Homo sapiens: one gene and its partner. The protein of the gene in region 1 purifies or fractionates together with the protein of each later gene. This does not show direct contact. Each region holds a gene or a part of one and is shown on either strand. Other genes may lie near its edges.

The links.
Region 2: the proteins of TBC1D10B (region 1) and UTP4 purify together in Homo sapiens (co-immunoprecipitation; one large-scale study listed by IntAct). This does not show direct contact.

Annotation. Positions count from the first base shown.
Region 1 is NC_000016.10:30,360,244-30,364,160, reverse strand, and holds part of TBC1D10B (TBC1 domain family member 10B), read left to right. Parts: intron 1-3,833; exon of another isoform or gene 3,834-3,917. UniProt on the Homo sapiens protein: Acts as a GTPase-activating protein for RAB3A, RAB22A, RAB27A, and RAB35. Does not act on RAB2A and RAB6A.
Region 2 is NC_000016.10:69,135,649-69,139,148, reverse strand, and holds part of UTP4 (U3 small nucleolar RNA-associated protein 4 homolog), read right to left. Parts: intron 2,454-3,500; coding exon 2,262-2,453; intron 1,349-2,261; coding exon 1,264-1,348; intron 1-1,263. UniProt on the Homo sapiens protein: Ribosome biogenesis factor. Involved in nucleolar processing of pre-18S ribosomal RNA. Part of the small subunit (SSU) processome, first precursor of the small eukaryotic ribosomal subunit.

The DNA of each region.
Region 1 (3,917 bases):
CCAGATGGACTTTTTGTTCTTTCTTTTCTTTTTTTTTTTTTTTGAGATGGAGTTTTGCTCTTGTTGCCGAGGCAGGAGTACAGTGGCACGATCTTGGCTCACTGCAACCTCTGCCTCCTGGATTCAGGTGATTCTCCTGCCTCAGTCTCCCAAGTAGCTGGCATTACAGGTGCGCGCCACCACACCCGGCTAATTTTTGTATTTTTAGTAGAGACGGGGGTTTCACCATGTTAGCCAGGCTGGTCTCGAACTCCTGACCTTAGGTGATTCACCTGCCTTGGCCTCCCAAAGTGCTAGCGTTATAGGCGTGAGCCAACACGGTCAGCCGGACAATTTTTTAAATCAATAATTCATCCTTTAGCAAATATTTATTGAGCATCTGCTATCTACCAGGCACTGTCTAGTCACAAATGATTGCAGTGAACAAAAAACCAAAAACTCCTCTCATGGTGTTTATATTTTAGTGGGGACAAACAATAAATCAGGGAAAGGAAAGTATATTGTATGTGAAATGATGGTAAGCATTAAGGAGGAGGTTATTTTTATTTTTACTTTTATTTGTTTTTTGATAGAGATGGGTTTTCATCATGTTGCCCCGGCTGGTCTTGAACTCCTGGGCTCAAGCGATCCGCCTGCCTTAGCCTCCTTAAGTGCTGGGATTACAGGCGTGAGCCACTGTGCCTGGGCCTAAAGAGGAGTTTAAAGCAAGAGGGAAATAGAGAATGTGAGTGGGGATGGGGTTACAAATGACTTGATCCTGCTTATGTTTTAAAAGGGTCATTCTGGCTACCATGCTGAGAACAGACTATAGGGAGACAAGGACAGAAACGGACCAGTTAGGAGACTTCCTGTAATCCAGGAGAGGGTGAGAGCTAGACCAGCATGGTAGCAGCGGGAGTATGGGGAGAAGTGGTTGGATTCTGGATATATTTTGAAGGTCGAGTCAAAGGGATTTGCCAATGGATTAGACATGCAGTGTGAGAGGAGAGAGGGGAGTAGGGTTTTTGGCCTGAGAAATGAGAAGAATGGAGTTGCTGTTTACTAATACAGATGGGGTAAAGGTAGCTGTGGGGGGCATATCAGGAGCTCAGTTTTGGAACGTTTATTTTTTATTTTTGTTTTTTGAGACGGAGTCTCGCTCTGTCGCCCAGGCTGGAATGCAGTGGCGCCACCTCGGGTCACTGCAACCTCCACCTCCCAGGTTCAAGCAATTCTCCTGCCTCAGCCTCCTGAGTAGCTGGAATTACAGGCACCCGCCACCATGCCTAGCTAAGTTTTGTATTTTTATTAGAGACGGGGTTTTGCCATGTTGGCCAGGCTGGTCTCGAACTCCTGACCTCAAGTGATCTGCTCACCTCGGCCTCCAAAGTGCTGGGATTACAGGTGTGAGTCTCCATGCCCGGCAGGGAACATTAAGTTTAAAATGCTTATTGGACCTCTAGATAGAGATGTAAGTTCAGTGTACAGTATACACAAACCTGGATTTCAGGGCAGATGTTTAAACTGGAGATAAATTGGAAATTAAGAGTCGTCAACTTATAGAGGGACTAAATCTTACCCACGAGACTGGATGAAGTCACAAAGGCAACAAGTGTAGATACAAAAGGAATTGATGCGAAATGTCCAACAATTGAGCCCTGCAGCTCCAATAGTTTGAGAATGGGAAGATGAGAAAGAGCCGGTAAAGGAGACTGGAATGAGAAGCTAGAGGTAGGAGGAGGACCAGGAGCATGTGATTGGGAGCAAAATGTAGTGGGGTTTCAAGCATCAGCTGTGTGAAATGCTGCTGAAGGGTCCAATAAAGTCCAGCCTGAAAATTGACCTCTGGATTGAACACTGGAGAAGTCATTAGTGACCATGTTAAAAACAGTTTTGTGGCTGGGTGCGGTGGCTCACACCTGTAATCCCAGCACTTTGGGAGGCCAAGGCGGGCAGATCATCTGAGGTCAGGAGTTCAAGACCAGCCTGGCCAACATGGTGAAACCCCGTCTCTACTAAAAATATTTTTAAAAGGCCAGGCGTGGTGGCCCACGCCTGTAATCCCAGCACATTGGGAGGCCGAGGCGGGCAGATCATGAGGTCAGGAGTTCGAGACCATCCTGGCTAACACGGTGAAACTCCCGTCTCTACTAAAAAAATACAAAAAATTAGCCAGGCATGGTGGCGGGCGCCTGTAGTTGCAGCTACTCGGGAGGCTGAGGCAGGAGAATGGTGTGAACCCGGGAGGCAGAGCTTGCAGTGAGCCGAGATCGCGCCACTGCACTCCAGCCTGGGCGACAGAGGAGATTCTGTCTCAAAAAAAAAAAAATTAGCTTGGTGTGGTGGCAGGTGCCTGTAATCCCAGTTACTCGGGAGGCTGAGGCAGAGGTTTCAGTGAGCCGAGATCACGCCATTGCACTCCAGCCTGGGCAACAAGAGCGAAACTCTGTCTCAAAGGAAAAAAAAAACAGTTTTGTGGCTGGGCGCGGTGGCTCACGCCTGTAATCCCAGCACTTTGGGAGGCTGAGGCAGGCGGATCACCTGAGGTCAGGAGTTTGAGACCAGCCTGACCAATATGGAGAAACCCCGTCTCTACTAAAAATACAAAATTAGCCGGGCATTTTATAGGGAGGCTGAGGCAGGAGAATTGCGTGAACCTGGGAGACAGAGTTTGCCGTGAGCTGGGATCGCACCATTGCACTGCAGCCTGGGCAACGAGAGTGAAACTGTCTCGAAACAAACAAAAACAGTTTTGTGTGGAGCAGTGGGTGAAACCCTAACTGGAGAATGGGAGAAAAGAAATTGAAGACAGTGAGTCTATAGGTAAGGAAAGAAACAGTGTGGTATTTGGAGGGAAGAGAGGGGTAAAGAGACTTTTTTTTGTTTGTTTTGAGACAGAGCTTGACTGTCGCCCAGGCTGGAGTGCAGTGGTGTGATCTTGGCTCACTGCAACCTCTGCCTCCCAGATTCCCAGATTCAAGTGATTCTCCCACCTCAGCCTCCCAAGTACCTGGGATCACAGGTGCCCGCCACCACACCTGGCTAATTTTTGTATTTTTGGTAGAGACGGGGTTTTGCCATGTTGGCCAGGCTGGTCTCGAACTCCTGACCTCAGGTGATCCACCCACCTTGGCCTCCCAAAGTGCTAGGATTACAGGCGCGAGCTACTGCGCCTGGTGAAGAGACTTTTTTTTTTTTTAAACTCAAATAACAGCATGTGGGTATGCTTGTGGGAACGGTGGAGAGAGAAATTGATAGTGCAGGAGCAAGGGGAGGGTTGTTGGAGTGGTGGCCTGTACACGCGAGAGGGGATGGGATCCTGGGCCCAAGTGGAAAGGAAGTGCTTGCCAGGATCACAGACTCTTCACCCATAGCAACAGGGAGAAGGCAGGGACACGGAAGCAGGCAGGTGGGTGATGGGTGTGGGTGCTTGTGGAAGTTACATATTTATTTTAATATGCATTAGGTAAAATAACCATATCAAACCTGTCATTTCGTGGATGCTTTTGCAAAGTGGAGAAAAAATGTCAACTAAATAGTAGGGTGGTATGCAGATAAAATACAAATGAAGATCACACTTGAATGCCTGGAGTTTTGGGAAAAGCTATTCTGGGAAGTGGTCAGGAGGAGGATGTGTGAGACTGGAGGCAGGGAGAGGATCTGGGAGGTCATTTTTTATGGGCAAGAAATGGAGGTCTGAGCTGCGAATGGCTGTGGAGGTGGAGAGGAGCAGGCAGGAATGGAATTCAGGGTGCAGCGCTGCTTAGGCTTGGAGTAAGGGGCTCTTTTCTGATGTGGGGCTGAGTGAATAGAAGTCCTGGACACGGCAGTGGGGCACCCTCAAGAAGAGCAGATCTAGGGTACAGATTTTATTCTTTTGGATGCAGAGACAGGAGAAAGGGCTGAGGCACAGCTGGCTTCCAAGCCTTCCCCAAGAA
Region 2 (3,500 bases), about 39 Mb from region 1:
AAAAACACAAAAACTAGCCGGGCATGGTGGCACGCACCTGTAGTCCCAGCTACTAGGGAGGCTGAGGCAGGAGAATTGCTTGAACCCAGGAGGCAGAGGTTACATTGAGCCAAAATCACGCCACAGCACTTCAGCCTGGGCGACAAAGCAAGACTCCATCTCAGGAAAAAAAAAAAAAAAAAAAAAAAAAGAGCACCCAAGATATATTAAAAACGAAGCAAGAATCTGATTAGCAGAGGATAAGTATTACTAATGGACACAGAGGACATTTGCTATTCTAGAAGATGGGTCACCAAACTGTGGCCCACAGGCCAAATCAGGCCCACTGCTTGTTTTTGTAAATAAAGTTTTTACTGGAGCACAGCCTGCCCATTAGTTTCAGTATCGTCTATGGCTGCTTTTGCACTACACTGACAGAGTTGGCAGACAATGTAGGTTTGGCAAAGCCTAAAATGTTTACTATCTGGTCCTTTACAGAAACAGTCTGCCAACCCCTGTTCTAAAGGGTCAATGCCAATTCAGCCCAGGTGGAGCCCAAGGATGGGCAACTGTTTATAAACTCCCTCATTCAACTTGAATGCACCAGAAGGATTAAGAACCACAGTTCCTTGGCCAGGGCAAGTGGCTCAGGCCTGTAATCCCAGCACTTGAGGCCAAGGCAGGTGGATCACTTGAGTAAGACCAAGAGTTCGAGACCAGCCTGGCCAACATGGTGAAATCCTGTCTCTACTAAAAATACGAAAATTAGCAGGGCACGATGGCACGTGCCTGGAATCCCAGTCACTTGGGAGGCTGAGGCACCAGAATCACTTGAAGCCGGGAGGCGGAGATTACAGTGAGCCGAGATCATGCCACCGCCACTGCCAGCATGGATGACAGAGTGACACTCTGCCTCCAGAAAAAAAAAAAAAAAGAAAGAAAAGAACCATAGTTCCTAATGACAAAATTGTAGTTCAAGACTTCATGTACGCTTGTTAAAACATCACAAAAGTAAGTGATAACTAACAAATTGACTTCCACAGAAACACTAGCTTTCCAATTTTGGATTTCTGGTTTTCTATATTATTACTTAACCAAGCAGTCACAACTATGCTATACAATGGGTAAAGCCTGGGCTGGGGATGGCTTCTAGCACATACCCTCCCTGTACCCAGTAGAGATAAAATATTACCTGGATTCATGGGAAAATATCCCATCCCCAGTGGCACAGAAACTTAATTTCTTGTTAAGGCTATTTACCGCCCCATGAAAAATGACGCTTACTTTTCTGCCGATCAAAATTTCTTTCAAACTGGATTTTGTCTGGGGTAATTTGAAATAGTTTCACAGATCCATCTTCACAACCAACCTATTTGAGAAAGAGGTAGTAAACAGAAAAAATCAATAGTAAACATTTTATAGGACTAAACACACACACACACCCCCCAACACACACTCTCTCTATTCTCTCTTCCTCCTTAAAGCTATCAGTTGCCGTGAAAAAGAAAAATCATTTGTGAGAGAAAGTACTAGTTATCAAGAAACTAATAGTGTATTCTCAGTAGCCTTCATATCCTAGACAGAAAACAGACTGATATTAAGAGTTCTAATTAGTGGCCCCATTCCTCTGTATGACATGGATTAGAAGTAGGATTTCATAGAATACTTCTGCTAGAGACCCTTGGCCTAAATAAAAGACCTACTAACATTATAACCTAAATGGAAACACCTTCAGATATCGTGCAAATTAGTGCAGATCAAAAATAATCAGACTCATCACAGAATTAAAGATCTGGAAGCACCCACTCTAATGGTAATTATGGGAAGGGGCTCAGTGTGTGGTCATATTTTTGAGAAACACTGGGCTGAAACACAAGTGCACAGGTTAACTTGCTGAAGGGACTCTCAGAACTCTTCATGTACCGATGTGCATTGTGAATTTACAGCAGGATTAAATATGCTGTATTTGTGAAATGAAATTTACCATAAAACACAAAACAAACCAAAACAAAAAAACCTCTACATCTCCAAATTCCACAGAACACAGTTTGGGAAATGTTGAACTGATGTAATCCTCTCATTTCATAAATGAATCAACAAGGTCCAGACTAGTAGCAAAAAGAATGCTGGGGATTTTTAAAATCTTCACTATCAATTCCAATCTTATAGTTGGGGTTGCCACATGCCATAATATATCGTTACTCTCCTATGAGCACAGGGAAGAAAGTCTGAGCAGGCACGAGAGAAATTTTGGTTTGAATTACCAATAGTTGCTTACTAACCAAAAGTTGAGAGCCACTGGGGCTGGCAGCCATGCTCCAAATAGGTCCTCCAAAGGCATCCATAGCATACTTGATGTTTAACGCCTGTAAATCATACTCCATAATCTCGCCATTGAGCCCAGCACTAAAGAGTCGCTGTCCTTCTGCCCAGCACAAAGCTTCTGTAGCCCGAGACTCATGACCTGGGAAAAACTGCAGAAACACCATAACTTCTCAACATTACCACAAATTCATCAGGTACCGGTACTGAGTGGTCACAGGCAACATGGTAAAAACAACTTCCCCATAAATAACTAGTGTGGGGTTTTGTGCTATCAGATCATGCCTAATGACATTTTCATTTTTTCAGCTCAAATTCTAATTACTTTTATACAGTTAAATTTGTTTCTTTTACTAGGACTAGTTCGGCAAAACATTTTCAGCAGAAAAGGTTTGAACTGCATTCCAGCCTGGACGACAGAGTGAGACACTGTCTCTACAAAAAATATAAAAAGTAGCCGGGTGTGGTGGCACACACTTATAGTCCCAGCTACTACGGAGGCTGACGGGGGAGGATTGTTTGAGCCTGGGAGGCGGAGGCTGCAGTGAGCCTTGGCCTCCCAAAGTCCTGGGATTATAGGCGTGAGCCACTGCACCCAACCCAAAAGTTTTCGTAGCTATCAAGGCATTTTATGCTTAGACCTGCTTGACGAAAAAGGAACTAAGTAGGTATAATTTTTCCTATTTCAACTTGAAAAGGCCAAGATATACATGGGTTAAGTAGGTTGCCAAAAGTGCCAAAGTCAATTGCATGAGGCAAATGAAGGTCTCCTTACTCCTAGCTCATATGCTCATATTCTTTCACTTTTTTGTTTTTTGGAGACAGAGTTTCGCTCTTATTGCCCAGGCTGCAGTGCAATGGCGCCATCTCAGCTCACTGCAACCTCCGACTCCCGGGTTCAAGCGATTCCCCTGCCTTAGCATCCTGAGTAGCTGGGATTACAGGCATGTGCCACCACGTCCCGCTATTTTTTTTTGTATTTTTAGTAGAGACGGGGTTTCTCCATGTTGGTCAGGCTGGTCTCGAATTCCCGACCTCAGGTGATCTGCCCACCTTGGCCTCCCAAACTGCTGGGATTACAGCCATGAGTGAGCCACCGCATCAGGCCCACTTTTATTTATTTATTTTTTTTGACACAGGGTCTCATTTTGTCACCCAGACTGGAGTGCAGTGGCACGATCTTGGCTCAATGTAGCCTC